Regions from separate parts of the Homo sapiens genome. Here region 2 is linked to region 1. The links come from fine-mapping of genetic effects on gene expression. Tissue or cell type: whole blood. Region 1 holds a variant in brackets; the other region holds the start of a gene. All regions are shown on one strand. Distances are between the middles of the regions.

Evidence for each region. PIP is the estimated chance that this variant, and not a neighbour inherited with it, causes the effect.
Region 2: SEL1L starts here. The variant in region 1 is fine-mapped to the expression of SEL1L in whole blood (TOPMed, PIP above 0.99).

What each region holds. Positions count from the first base shown.
Region 1 is chr14:81,472,233-81,480,341 of GRCh38, forward strand. It overlaps SEL1L (SEL1L adaptor subunit of SYVN1 ubiquitin ligase), which reads right to left. Exons shown (of 21, transcript NM_005065.6): 20 at 7,380-7,508; 21 at 1-4,949. The coding sequence ends at 4,740. Among named protein-coding and RNA genes, the nearest start is that of LINC02308, 26 kb to the left of the region's middle. The variant G/C (reference allele first, on the strand shown) is at 4,353.
Region 2 is chr14:81,530,100-81,538,208 of GRCh38, forward strand. SEL1L (SEL1L adaptor subunit of SYVN1 ubiquitin ligase) reads right to left here and starts at 3,754. Exons shown (of 21, transcript NM_005065.6): 1 at 3,576-3,754. The coding sequence starts at 3,645. RefSeq lists enhancers at 3,542-4,041, 7,828-8,109 and a silencer at 3,758-3,877.

The sequences.
Region 1 (8,109 bases):
ACTTCCCCCACAACTTTTAGGTCAGTCAAGGTCATCTGGGGTCACTGACTGTGCTCCCACAAGTACAATTTGAGATCTTGAGATCTGACATCTCAGTTGCCACAGTTTGCATCATGTAGGCTTTTTATCCAAGATCCAATGCTTCTGAGCTGGAACATTTTACCTCAGTTACCTCTTTGAGTTGCCTGCTGGGAAGCTGGGGGCCAAATTTGTAGCCCACTTCCAATTGCACTTTGTGTACATGTTCACTCTTGATTTAATATTTTTTCATTTCTCCTTTACTCAGAGCATATTTAGTCTAAATGTTACTGTGTGGTACGTGTCTCTGCAAGTCCTCTTAAAAAATTCCTGGGACAAGGCAATGCATAAACAAACTTTAGATAAATAATATTATAATCAGGCTAAAGTGAATCACGCTTACTACATATCAAGGCTGCTTCAAGACAAAGATATCAGAGATTTAAAAGATAACATTTCTTAGCAAATTCATGTTCTCCCTAGGGCAATATTGGACTTGTAAAAATCTGAATTTCAGGAGTTTAAAATGAAAGATAAATTCAAATTGCCACAAGTGAATGTTTTCAGAAGCTTCTGAATTTCCAAAAAACATTAAAAAATTGAATCATTCAGCTTAAAAAAAGTCTGTCTGGAAAGGTGCTTGGTTGTGGTATATTACAGCATACAGGATAACCAGAGGTGGAATCTTTATTTCACAAGTTTCAAGATACAGTACAAAACGATTCTGTACATCTCTCTATTAACAGGATTTGTTTACACAATTATATTACACTTCACCAACCTTTATACTGCATTTCATTAAATACAAAATACATTTACAAAAAGAGTCTACCATGGTGTTCCTTCACAATGCCAGCTTAAGGTCTTTTAAAACTTCCTCTTCTACATATTTATAGTGGTTACATCTTGATTATATCAACATTATGAGTTTTATGAGTTTATTTTCTAATCAAAGAGAATAGTGTCAGCCTGTTTCTCAAACCAAATAGGAAAAACAGCATGTGAGATGATTCCCTGCACATAACCAAGGAATCCTTTTCATGCACACAACATTGGACTTTTACTTGTGCAGTCACTTTAACATACAAATCATCTTTCCTTGGGATCGTTTTAAATTTTCTTGAAATACCAAGTGGGTGGAGAGCTTCTTTTCAATGAATACCACACATTTAAAATCCAGATCGTGCCTCAGGCATTCAGGAGTGTTATATTTTAATTTATATTTGAGAGTGATGACTGATGAAAAATATTTGCATGAAAATAGAAATTTTCTTTTGTTCTGATCATTTCTTACATACTTCTAGTCATAATAATGTGTAATACATATATATATTATGAGATTCACTTTCAAAACAAATATCAGCTGTCACTGAAATATAGCCCTGCTTGTCTTGGCAGGTAAAGGGGCTGTTTTCATGACACATCTTGTTTTGAAATGTGCATGTGAAATGTTAGTCCGAACCTCTGTAAAGGAAGTTTTTGCGTATGTAGTTAGACATTAATACACATGCTATACACATAAAGAATTGTGTTTTTCATTTATAGGCCTGCATGCATACTTCCAAAACACTGGTTTGAAGAATGAACATGAGGATAAAAGAAGGGAGAGAAAGACAAAGCAAAATAAAAAAAAATTCCTATATATATATTAATAAAATACTTAAGTTTCCTGGAGGCATCAACGGCTCTTTAAATAAATCATCAGATCATCACCAGATCACTGGCAGGGGTTTCCAAAACTTCCCAACAGTACAGAGACAGAATGGCTTAGTGGTAAGACTCTCACATGTAAGGTAAAAATTAACCTAATATGCAAAAAAGTAACAAATCCTTAGTATCAAGATTAATAATTTATAAATTCATCTGAGTTAAGTGCTAAACAATACATTTTGAAAAGAAGTCATCTTTGATTTACTTTTTCTTTGCCATTGACTGCTAATCAAAAATAAGCCTTACCTAGAAAACAGAAACTGAAACTTCAAACACAGAGACAGAAAAAAAAAAAAAAACCCACCAATGCTACCTCTGTAAAATAAAACTAGAAGCAAAATGAATAGTTTCAAGACAGTCGGCTAACCAACAAACCAAATGCACAAGAGAATACTAAACAGGGTTTTACTGTCATCAAGTTCGAAGGCAGGAAGACAGACTAGAAAAGGTCTTAGGAGAGATGGGCTACCATGGACAAATGAAGCCACACTCTATCTGTTAAATCTAAATTCTAACATTAAAACTCCTGAATCCTGGAGTTAGTTTAATGTCACTGACATTAACTAGCTTTAGTTATTGTCATTTTATTCAAATGGATGCCATTTGATTAGGTAAGTATTGAGCATTATTTTAGGAGAAAAACCAAACCCAACTCCTATTTGCTTAGGTACCATGTCCCATGAACAAAAAAGAAGAAGAGAGCAAAGTATTTTTGAGACAGTCTTTAAGTGAAGCCATAAGAACTAAGTTATTTGAAAGACACCATTCACAAACTGCTGGCAGCAAGTGACCCAGGGTAAAATGAAGTAGAAACAAGCCAAGAAAAGGAAATTCAGAACATTAACAATAGAAAAAGGCAAGTGGTAAACTAATAAGAAGTGTGTTTTTATATGAACAACAAGACTGCACTTTCCCATCCAGCCTTAGGTGGCACACACTGTTTTAAGAAATGTTTTCTCAAAGCACGTACTCAATGGAGGGAAGGAAAGTTAGATATAAAAATCTTGCTAAAGGAAAAATGAGGGTGGATGGCAGAAGAAAAAAGTGAAAGTTGGTAGTCATCTTGGGTGGTTTTTCAACTTTTAAATAAATTATAACAGTTCCTTCTAAAGGAAGTGTGGCTGCTACCGTGGATTACACTTATTTTGAAGCGGGGAGAAGGGACAGTGGTGGAGACACCAAAGTACTGTACCAACTGCACTCAAATCTCTACATGTAAGAGACCAAACAAGTCTCACTATTTACAAGAGTTGCCTAAAGCAACATTACACTTAGGGGGGGTAAGTTTCCTACCTTTCACAGATACGCTTTCATACATATGGCTCTCTTGGTGACTAACTCTTCGAATTTGGAAGCAATTATCTGGGAGGAAAGTTTTGCTTACCAGGTTTCCCATAATTCTCTAAACACAAAAAGGTATACAACTTCATATATAAAAGCCTTCATGTTCATTATAGACTAGTTAAATCTAGTTCTAACTACTACCCCAACTTCAAAAATCAAAGCAGTACAACTCTACAAGCAATAAACTTTTCAAGTTTTCTGGCAGATGAGGGATTCTGGGAAAAAAGCATGAAGGTTAGTATAAACATACTGACATCAGTAGGCATAGAAAACCTGCTCAGATACGAATGCAGTCTCAGACAAGATACAGGCTGGTGAACACCACCATCTGACAATAAAATGAAATACAAATTCAGTTTAAGCTTTAATTATTTCACGTGTGTAATTATGTGAAACTCTTCAGTTTTTTTCCCATACTATTTAACCAGACAATCCTGAAGCATAGTAGCCTTGATTTTCCTAATGTTAACAGTGAGAAAATGGTGACTATGATAGCTAAGCAGTGGCTGGCTTTCTATTATAATATAAAACTATCAGAAATAAAAAGATACCTGAATAGTATAGAACAGTACAAACAGGTTTTGGCTTTCATCAACCACTGAGTTTAATCCATCTTTGATTCTCTGAGTTTTAGTATTATAATAGTAGTCACTGTAAGCCATACCCTGGCAATGATATTTCATATTTAAAGAATTCAGGAAGGTGATGTGTTCTTTGTGCAAAAAGAAATGCAAAGTAAAATAAATCCTGGGAACAAATGCTTCAACTTTAGGAAAAGTATGTCTGTGTCTGTGATCGTAGTACCCCAACCAGAGTTCGTTTTGTTTTCTAATTTCTCCCACTTAGTCCATCCTCTGGCTTCTGGATCAAGGCTCTGTATATTCAAAACAAACAAGCAAATTACAGAGTAGGTGGGGCAAACTCGCGTTAGTGCAAGGAGTCAGTTCACAAGGTTTTGCATAAGTATATTCCATTCCAAAGAAGTAAAGCTCACAAAAAACTCCTTAACAAGGCCTTTCATTCTTTGAAGGAGAGGAGTATGGTATACCGTGTGACAATCACCAATAAGAAACCTCCCAACCCTCCCTTTTAAAATAACAAATATGCTGAATATGTCTAATTGCATGTGGACTGGTAAGAGTTTCTCAGTTATCGCAGTTCCAAAACATTTTCAAGATAGCTTTTTTTTTTTTTAACTTAAAAGGCAAGTTCTATTTTCAGACTTTCGAACACGTTTAAACTTGCAACTGGGTTTTCCTTTTTACACTGATCAGTTTTTA[G/C]TGTCGATGCACAATACCTTAAAGATGGTTGACATTAAGAACTTATGCACACTGAAATAATGACCAAAAGGATCCAAGAAAGATAGCTGGATACAGTAGACATTACTCTGAGTGTCTCACATATGTTTCCAGAAAAGAAAAAAAAAAGCCACTGAAAGTTGTTATTCCATATGGCACTGAAACAAACATTCAGCTCAGTTTAGGTAAGAGTTACTTATCCCTGAAAATAAAGGCATCAGATTCTAAGCAGCTTTAGGAATTCAATGCTTCCTTGTGCCGTGCCTCTTCTGGGAGGTGACCACTGATCCAAGGTCCTAAATCAAATGCAAGTGTTCCCAGCAGATAACTTCCTTCGCTGTCACTGATCAAGGCTGGACCCAGTGCCTATTACTGTGGTGGCTGCTGCTCTGGTGGCCCCTCCTGCTGGGGTGGAGCTGGCCGTGGCCCTGGAGGCCTGGGTGCAGGCATGTCTTGGTGCTGCCTTTGCCTGTAAGCTATGACTGTTCCCAACAGCAGCGCAATGATGGTCATGAGGTAAAGGTCCCACTCAGGTCCCAAAAGCTGGTCCATATCAAGTTGGGTGAACATATCTCGAATCTTAATGAAAATAATATAGAAACCATTATTATCACTAAAATGTCAGGCAAGGAACTGGGAAAGTTACATCACCAGAAGTAAGTACAGAAATTAAAATAATTTGTTTTAAAAACGTTTTGCAATGTGTGTGTGTGTGTGTGTGTGTGTGTGTGTGTTTAAAGCGGTTTTAAAAGCCTTCAACTGAAGCTCAAAATAATGTGTCTGAGGAATTAAGCTACTAATTTATAATAGCTGACACTTAATATAAAATGTCTGACAGTGTTCTTTCCACCAGTAATCCAATACGCTAATTTTAATCATTTTTCACAGAAAATATTTGGAAAACAAAACAAAACAAAACAACACTGGGGCCAGGCGCGGGGGCTCAGGCCTTGTAATCCCAGCACTTTGGGAGGCCGAGGTGAGTGTATCACTTGAGGCCAGGAGTTCAAGACCAGCCTGGCCAACACGGTGAAATCCCATCTCTACTAAAAATACAAAAATTAACCAGGCATGGTGGCGGGTGCATGTAATCCCAGCTATTCTGGAGGCTGAGGCACAAGAATTGCCTGAACCCAGGAGGTGGAGGTTGCGGTGAGCCGAGACTGTGCCACTGCACTCCAGCCTGGGCGACAGAGCAAGACTCTGTCTCAGGAAAGAAAAAAGAAAAAAACAGTGGTGAGCCAAGGGGAGAAATTAGTATCTTGGCACAGCGAACCTACTGGCAGTGACAGCACACCAGCTGGAAAGCTCTGTTCCATGACAGTGGGGCCATTTCACAATTCCCATGTAATTGAAAATAGCAGGAATTCAAACATTTAATAGCTGAATGAATAATGCTTCTCAATTAGGATTTAACTAAAACACAAAATATTTAACATCTGAATTGAAACCTGAAAGTTATGTTCTTAGCCTATAATATTTTAATTGTTTTAGTATCACTGATACTTTCTGACTTTTATTATACTTACCCATTAAGAAAGTAAACATGGGGTATAATTTTATATAAAATTACATTTGAAAGATCTCTATAACACGTTTGTAGGTACAGGTGCTAAATTTTTCTGGAAAAAAAATGACAAGAAACCACTAATTGTGTTCTCTGGGGAAGAATCTGGGATGGGAGATTTGTGTTCTTCTGTACTGTTTGACTTTCTTATGATCGATACTTATTAGTCTTATACTCTCTTTTTCTTTTTAGTTGGAATAACTAGGTGGTAGGATTATGGGGCGTTTTTACTGTCTTCTTTATACTTCTGTATTAAAAAAAACAGCAAAGATACAATATACCCAGTACAGCATATTATAAGATGAAGTCCTAGACTATAACCAACAGTTAGTAATAAAAATTGTGAGAGATAAAGGTCTGAAATGGTACTGAAAGAGAAAGAGGAGGCTGCCACACGATCAGCTTTTAATTAAAGGAACAAAGATTGTTTCAATTGGCAGCGGTTACAGCACACCTGACTCATGCTACCATGCAATTATAGCAACTGACATTACACATGTGGAAGCGACTGGGAGGCCAGAGTCCCACAAGACCAGTGCTCTGGAACCCTATCTGTGGAGGACTTCAGCTGCATGGACTAGACAAGTCCATTTCTTTTCACTGATGCTGGAGCAGCATGGACTACATTTATACCTGTGACACACATGAGGGAAAGCCCATTCTTGAATCTAAAACTGAAAGACATTAACAAAAGGGTGAAACATCATCCTTTTCTGGTCCTGAAGAAACTTTCCTTGTCCTGAATAAGCCTATGTTAGAAACAAGGGCTCTGAACATCTTAGGGCTTTCAGAGTGAAATGCTCTACCAGTTAATCCATTCTAGGAACTATAGTACTGGAAACAAAATATAAAGCTGGCAGAACCCAAGAGTACCTACATACCAGTATTGCCAACTAAAGTTGGTAATTTTGAAGAAAATGGGTAACCCACTTCCTATATAGGTTCTTCCATTAGCCTATTTAAATAATTCACGCTATTTTTAGAGAAGAAAATTTGGGTGGTGTTTTCAACTTAATGCTTCACTATCGGAAGAATCTGAAGTACAACAACCTGGGGAGGTTCTCAGATTCTTCTTTTTTTTTTCCTTTTCTTTTTAAGGGACTGGTTTGAGTCATCTGATTTAATGTTTACTGAATTAAATACTGTTTCAAACTGCCATGAGTTAGTCTCAGTTTTCCCTAAACCAGAAAACATCTGCCTCCATGAAAAATGCTTTAGCGTCAGGAAGTGTCAAACGCTACCTAAAAACTGCAGTAGCTGCTTTATGCCTGCATTTATCCCTCCCCTGATAAGGTCCTCGGGTACCTGAGCTGAGGAGAAGGGAACACACCCGATACCTGCAGGACCACTCTTCCCTGTGCTTCTCAACTTTTGAAAAACAAACCTCCAGGACAGACCTTCCATCATTTATATTTTAATGAAAAGAGGTACGGACCACTTACGTTTGTTTCCCGTATGTACTGCAAGAAATAGACGACGCCCAATTTGCAGAGGGCTAGGAAGACTGGAACTTGTGCATCTGGGCTGGCTTCAGCTGCCATGTCATAAAAACGTTTCGCAAGGTGAATATCCTATAATACAGGTAAGAAACAAAAATGCATTTCTTGTCAAAATAAGTAAAAATATTTAGTGAACATATTAGACGAATTTATTTTACCTTTGAGGTTTTCATTTTAAAATGAGTTTCCCTCACCTAAACAAAAATGCCAAGCTTTACTTGGGTAAAATTCGTTTAATTATCTAACTGCTTAATATTGAAAAACTTAATTAAAAAACTCATTTTCCCCCAACATAACATCTAATTTGCTGTGTAGATATGCTGCATACAGCCATATATCTATGCATTAACACTGTTAACCTAGAGATTTCCAAGGGCGACTTCTGAAACTCACACTAATTTTTTGCTACTTAAAACTTCAATCAGTATTAGCAACGTCTGGTTTCAGTTCTGGACAGTGATCTTCAAAGTGGGGTAGAAACACTCAAGATTTTACAACAGATGACAGGCACGGTGGCTCATTCTTTTTTATTTTTTTTTTGAGACAGAGTCTTGCTGTCACCCAGGCTGGAGTGCAGTGGCGCGATCTCGGCTCACTGCAGGCTCCGCCCCCCAGGGTTCACGCCATTCTCCTGCCTCAGCTTCCCGAGTAGCTGGGACTACAGGTGCCTGCC
Region 2 (8,109 bases), 58 kb after region 1:
TATGCTTTCAGGGAAAAGTGATCACTACAAAATCATTTTTCCATTCATCACGTAAATTAAACAGACTGATAACCTTTAAACACAGAAAGTCTAAATAGTTTGGTGAAAACAGACCAGATATCCTGTTCTCTGCTTTAGCTCTAAATTGGTACAGATCCTAAGATACTCTCGATTCTAAATTTCTTCAATTCTGAGACCTGGAGAGCTAGGTCTGGAACCTGGCTTCATCACATGTTAATTCTGACACATGGTTCAGTAACAAAAGCTTGCTCAGCCTCTGTTTCTCAATCTGTCAAAAGGGGTAACACCTCTGTCCCGCTGACTCACAATATTTTAAGGAACGACCAAAACAGTGAAATTAAACATCCTCTGCTGTCTGAAAACTACTCTCTGAATTTATAATTATTACCTGAAATACCTGGCAGTGGACCTAACTAAAATGACTAACACTGCTTGGCACAAAGAAAAAAAAAGGTTAAGCCATTTGCCTCTTCTGCCAAAAATAAGAAAGCATGCATTTGTGAGAAAAATTATAACCTTTTCACTATTATCCTGAGAAAATGAAGAAATATCTTTTTAGTGTCCTCCTTTAAATTTATTAATAGAAAAGAGAAAATGTTTCTAATATTAGCCATGTGTCAATGACGAGGATATGTTCTGAAAAGTGTATCACTGGGCGATTTCCTTTTTGTATACTTAAACCTAAATGGGATAGCCTTCTACATACCTGGGCTACATAGTGTAGCCTGTTGTTCCTAAGCTACAAATCTGTACAGCATGTGACTATACAGACTACTGTAGGCAACTGTAACATAACAGTAAGTATTTGTGTACATAAACATAGCTAAACATAGAAAAGCTACAGTGAAAATATGGTGTAAAAGATTACAAAACATATACCTGTCTAGGGCACTTACCATAAATGGAACTTGCAGGATTAAGAGTTGCTGTGGGTGAGTGAGTGAGTGAATGTGAAGCCTAGGATGTTACTATACACTATTGTAAACACTGTACACTTAAACTACACTAAATTTATTTTTTAAAAAGTGTGCTACCATGTTCCAATGGCTACAATGTCACTAGGTGACAGGAATTTTTCAGCTCCATTATATTCTTACAGGGCCACCATCTTACATGGGGTTCATTGTTGACCAAAATGTCATTATGTAGCATGTGACTATATCATATTTTTACATGCTTCTAAAACATGATACTAGCTAACAGCTATCAACAGCAATAGAATCAAGATTCTCTTTGTTGGCTGACCATACTCCACCTGGAGAGATGCGACCTGCCCTGGGTAACCACTAATGTTCAAACACAAAATTATAACCAAAAACTTGATTTTAATACTGGAGTAAAACTTTAAACTTTGAGGCCGAAACCCTGTGAATGAAAATCACAATTGAAAATCCATAGCTTAATTTACACAACTTTATTTAACACAGGGTTGTTTTTTTTTCTTTTTTTTTGAGACAGGGTCTCGCTCTATTGTCCAGGCTGGAGTGCAGTGGCATAATCACAGCTCAGTGCAGCCTCAACCTCCTGGGGCTCACTCCATCCTGCCACCTCAGCCTCCCGAGTAGCTGGAACTACACGTGTGCACCATCACACCTGGAGTTACGTAGAGATGGGGTTTCGCCATGTTGCCCAGGTTGGTCTTGAACTCCTGGGCTCAAGTGATCCTTCCACTTCAGCCTCCCAAAGTGCTGGGATTACAGGTATGAGCTGGGCCCGCACAGGTGTTTTATGATATATGAACTTCATGTGAGCACAGCACTGCCTTTATTACCTTTTAGCATGCACATCTACATTGTTTTAGTTCTGGCTAAGGCTTCTGCCTTTACCATTGAAATGTTGTGGCACAGCTTTAACTATGATGGAAATCAGAGCAGACATTTCTTGAATACAGTCCTCTACCTACATCAATACAACCCAAGGATTTAATATATCAGTGTTAAGTCTTTTATTACAACATCCTGAAAGCCCCAACTGTTGATCTTCAAATATCTTTTCCACTGGCATGGAGCTCTAAGTATATAAAATGCAGTCAAAGACAGACAGCACAATTCCTATGCTTTAATTTTCTTTAAACTCTGCCAATTAAATTCAGAGGGATACACACCGTGCTCTTTCATTACTGTAGTTCTCTTTAGTGTGAAGAATCCCTCATGGAGATTGTTAATCTATGTATACCTGAGCTGTTCCAGACCTAAAACCCAATGTTTAACAAACCCATAAGAGGAATTCTGATGCAGGAGGTCCATGGTCCAGCAGGTACTCTACTCATTAAGCTCAACAGCTTCATTTCATGCTTTTTGATCAAATATTAAATAACTGCTAAAAGTGCTTCGAGAGTTAAGTATAGTCTAAAGATCTGGTCATTAACTCAAACCATCACTACTACTGGAGGGAGGGGAGTGGACCTGAAAGAATGATGTTGGCAGTAAAGTAATTAGCATAGGGTTGGTGCTTTTGAAATGGTATCTCAAACCACATCATGGATAGAATTTAGGTTTAAGCCTCTTATTTTAGAAGCAGAATGACGTTATGGCATTGATTTACAACTAGGACAGGTAATTTGGGGATTCAGATAACCATCTGGGAAATTTTCTGTTAAAAAAAAGCTGACATTTATTAAAAAAAGAAAAAGCTGACATTTATACTCCGTGTTGTCCCCCCAAAACGTCAAGCCACAGAACACCTGTCCTGTTAACTGAAACTGATTAAAATTCCAAAGTTTTACTGTACTAATTTTTATTTATCAACACTTAGAAACACGAAGTTTTCATGAACACTCTCAAAATGGAAATTTTCAAATGTAGGCAGATTAAAACATTAAAAAAGGGGGAAAAAAGCAGAACCAGAATAAACATTAGCTAACTGGAAAATCAATTCAAAAGCACACAAATTTCTGTATCTATATAAAACGCATCTTATAAGAACCAAGATTTTCCCAAACATCATAAAATGACTGTCAACAAACATGGGGCAACTCAGAAACACTGTGACAGGTCACCGCTTTCTCAGGAAGGTTTCAAAAAAGTAAAAAGTGGCTACGATGAGATCAAAAGTCTTCGTTTTTAAACAGACAGACCAGGGACCATCTCAGGTGTTAAGCAAACTACTGTCAACATCCTGGTCTGGATGGATCCTCCTCTGCCCCAAAGTGACAGCTCCAGGTTTGTCAATTATTTAACTTACAATTCCCAAGCCCAGAGTTCTAGACCAGACCCTTCCTCTACCCCAGGGTCGAGGAAGCTCCACTCGGGCTCCTGTATCAGGATTCATTCCTTTGGAGTCAATTCCGCGTTCGTGAGAAGAGTCGCGCAAAGTTTGTTACGTGGGAGAGAGGTGTGGGCAGGGTGACCGCCCCTTCTTTTTCCACCCCACTCCACCTTCCTAAATAGCCCCTTTGGCGCAGGCCAAGCAAAGCCAAAGAGCGAGTGACAGCCCAGTGCGAGATGTGCCCAGGGAGAACGGGGTCCCGAGCCTGGAGTCCCCACGGCCCCGCCGGCTGTAGAGGCTGGGGGGCGGAGGCTCTGGGCCTTCAGCCCGAGGGGGCGGATACTGACCCGAGGACGCCGAGGCCAAGCTCAGCAGCACCGCACACAGCAGCAGCGTCAGCCCTATCCGGACCCGCATCCTCCTCTCGGGGCCGGTGCCAACCCCTAGAGCTGTCGCCTTCGCCTCTGCCACCACGGACTCAGCCACCACCGCCGCCTCGCCGCTGCTCTTCCTGCTCTAGTCTCCTTCCTCCGCCCCTTCCCAGGCTTCCCTGACCCAGCGCGCAGCCAATCCCCGCCCGCCGTCGCGGGCTTCTGGTCCAATCACCATGGTCTCCCCGCCCACCCCCATTGCTCCGCCCCGGGGGTCATTCATTGGCCAATCATTGTACGAAGCTCCCACACCAGCTTTCTCGGTTGGACCACGACTCACGGACATGGCCCCAGCTAATTGGTAGCCCCTGGGTTCAACCGGAATCAGCGCGTGAGTCCAAGACTGGGAGAAAGAGGCTCATCCGAGACTACAATTCCCAGAATGCGCTTCATGTGATTAACTCGGGGGGTGCTCTTGGGAAACGTAGTCCATCGTAGGGCAAGATTTACAAGTGCGGGTGACTGTTGAAGTTAGAATTTAACTAACACCTGGGCTAAATATTAACTCAAGGCTATGGATTCACAAGCCTTTTTAAATTGACCCAAAATAAATATTAAGGAATAATTTTAAGAACTTGTAATGTGTTTAGCATCTTTTCCTGTTTTATTTAAAAAATTTAAATTGGGCATAGTGATAAGAGCACTGAGAAAAATGCCACAGCTAGTTGAATTTGAGGTGTTTTTTAAAACTTAGATAAAACAGTACCGTGAAGTACGGAAACCAGGGTGCAACTCAGTACCTGTCCTCCTTTCTCCGACAAAACAAAAGGAAATAAATCCGCTCGGCACAGATTATCTCAATACAGTATTTATTTTCACTAGGTTCACCAGACAATAATCATAAAGAAAATGTGCCAACAGCTTTGAAAAATTATTTTAAACACTTGTCCTCATCCTTCTCCTCTTGTGAGTTGCATTGTTCTCTTCTTTCCTAACTAAAGTCAGGAGACCAGGTTCACGTGTGTGGAGGTAGAGGTGATAGTGATTGCATCGCAGGCACGGAAATACTCTATGTAATAAGCACGAAATCCAGGCATGTTCCAACTGAGTAGCAGAGCAGTGACTTGGTGTGCCTGCCCTTTCTTTTCTCAAACCGTGTCATTCTGCTTTCCCTGTCATCCACCCACAGTCAGCTCTAAGGCCTAGAACCTAGTCCAGCCAAGTGAAGGACTTTGGAAAAGTCTCTGCTGGCCATGTGTCTTAACACTTCTGGGCATTTGTCTTCCTTCCTTTTTTTTTTTGTTTTTTGTTTTTTGTTTTTTGAGATACAGCCTTTTATTTTCAGGAAGATGGTAAAAAACCAACCACTGTTTCTCATTCACATCGGAGGAGATGAAGGAAAGAATTATCTCCTCCAAAAACTTGTCTTTTCAGCTACATCACCATTTCTGTCACTAACAATGTTCCCTCTGAGTTCCTCTGATTATAAATCATAGAGTAAAATCTGGTATATTTTCCTTTCTTTTTCATCTTATTGATAATCAAGTTCTATCAGTTTAAACTATGTAACTTTTAAATTGTTTTATTTTATTATGTACCTCTGTTCTCTTCCTCACTGAAAACTCCCCTAATGGCTTTCATTTTCTCTCACCTGGATGATGCACCTGAGTTCCAGCCATACTCACTGACATCATTCTCCCTTTAACCTGAATCACATATCATGGCCATATTAATTTTCCTTAAACACTGCTTTCATATGCCTATTGAAAATTTTCAATGGCTACACTTTTCACAGAATAAAAAAAATTAGAACTTATTCTACTCACAAAATAGGAACTGTGCTGACAGTTCTACTCTGTTGGGGAAGTACCAGGGAAGAAACTTCTGCCTTCTACAGAAGAGCCAGTGATTATCTGTTTGATTAAAACTGGGGAAAGTTTGCTGCTTAGTTAAGCCCCAACTTCTTTTTTCAGTTTTGTCTTTACTGAGTACGTCTTATATTTAAGGGTTGTTCTGGGTGCTGCTGCATGGACCAAATAGCCACTTCCGTTTTACTTTCCAGATTTCACATTAACACAATCATGTCTTCCTAAGGGTTCCTCTACCCTTTCTCCAACTGCCCTTGCTTCTTTCACTTAGCCATAACTCTGGCATCCTTCCCAATTTCATTCACATTTCGTCTTGGATCACACTTCTCCAACCAGATCTGTCCTCATTAATCTTCATTTCTCTAAGAATCTATTGAACACTCACAATCTTGCCTTATAAACAGATTGTAAACATGCTGAGGCTGGAGATGATCATGTGATTCTGTGTATAGGTATATAGTGCTGGACTTGCCACCACTAGCACTAGTTAATTATTTATTGGTTGATAGATATGTCTTGCCTGTCTGTTGTGAGATTCAAAATGGAGACACAGGATAAAAGCACTTTCTACATTGTAGGATGTTTTACATATAGTATTGTTTCTTATTGATTGCTTGGTTGAGGCGAAGGAGGGAAATTAGTTTTATACCCTTAATGCGAAAAGGGCTTAGAGCTGCTAGAGCTTTTGCCTTTAGCCAGCAATGAGTAGCTGACGTGCTCTGAGAATTCTCATAGGACCTGACTTCCTGGGGAAGTTCCAAGTCTCCAAAGTGGTTCAGAATATGCTGTGGGAAAGTCAGATTTATTTTATCAGCCTGCTATATTACATGAGATTAATTAGAAAAAAGGTTGTGAATTCTCCATGGCCTATCCAGTCTGTGCATACACTCCTCAAGGTTACCTGCCAGCATTCCCAGTTAAGGTTATGTACTTGTACAAAATGTTAATATTATTTATTAATTCTTAGACTGCTTCAATATTTGCTCAGCTGTCTTTATTCCATCTGTCCATATCAGCATTCTGGGTCATTGTCAGAGATTTCCAAGTTGCAGAAAACCTGTTTGCTCTGCATTGCAGCACAGCATAGCACTCAACAGAGGTAGGTAATAAACACCTTTTAATGCAGATGACACTGATGTAACCTCATGCCATTGAAATGAATCAAGCAATTAACAAATGCTGAGAACCTGAACGTGTTGAGGACATAAATCCAACTTGCTTTTCACTTAAGGATGGTGAGACAACCTCCAGAGACTTTTCCTGAGAATGGGGCAATTGTCACCAACTCTAGTGGGATATATCCTTTCCTGTGCTTTTCTTTGCGTTCCATTTGAATTGGTAATAGGCAAGACTGTCAGCATTTGTATTAAGGTATTTGCCAGGGCAGGATTAGGGAGAAGCAAGAAGCAGAATATTTTTCCCTTCAGGGCTTAGAAAAGAATGTACTTTCTTTCCTATAGATGAGGTAAATTAAAGTTTTCATGCATAAATGAAAATATAAACTCTTGCATTATATAGTGAGATAGAACCTGGCATCTTCTTATTTATATTCTGAGCTCTTGGAGTAAATGAACAATGGACTTATACCTCATCTTATCCCTCCTAACTTCAGGACAGCATATGGCAGGTGATCAAAGTGATCAAATTAATAAGTTTTGGGTGTTCATGCCAGTTTCCATGATTATAATTAAGAGCATTAAGTTTGGATTGCAGATCATAGATTGTGGAGGAGTATGTTTGATCTACCTAATGTTTGAAGCTGATAGAAGATGAAAGGGGGGAGGGAGCCTCAGGCTGTTTACCAAGTTTCATCGTGAGGTGACATTTGCTCTGGACATGTGTGTTCTCTGAGCAGTGTTGACTCATACCAGATAAAGGAAAGGCCAGGATATGTTTTTACCCTAAATAACTGGACAGGCATCCTTGGGTCCAATATTTTCATAAATTTGTTAACTGCTAGTTCCAGGGAGAGACTGGATTATAACTAAATTTAAATAAGAACTCGATGAAGTGAACTTTATAAGGTAGAGATAAACAGCTTAGAGCTCCCATTAAATTCAGTTAACCCTTGAGTAGATAGCAATGTATTTAATTAGTGAATGTTGCATTAGGAACATTATTTTCACAGGTCCTTCCTTCCTTCCACAAATATACAGGAACATTCCTGTAGTTGAGCACATTGGCTTTATTACTCATTGCAGTGTGGAAAAAAAATACACCATAAGGTATCTCCGTAGGAGGGTATTAGAAAGAACCTATCTTAGAATTTGGGCTTTGATTGGGTGATTTGTCAGAGACTAAGGAAGTTGGGTTTGCTCTAGATTGGATGCTGTTAGAAGTGCCCCTGCCTTCTATCGGGGGAACCAGCCCCCAATATTTCAACATAGGTTCTTTTTTATTTTCCCTAAGTGTTGGCTGGTCTGAAAAAGAGAAAGAGTACAAAGAGAGGAATTTTACAGCTGGGCCTCTTGGGGGTGACATCACATATTGGTAGGACCATGATGATGACCCCGAGCTGCAAAACCAGCAAGTTTTTATTAGGGATTTTAAAAGGGGAGGGGGTGTATGAACAGGGAGTAAGTCACAAGGATCACATGCTTCAAAGGGCAATAAAGATCACAAGGCGAAGGCAAAATTAGAAT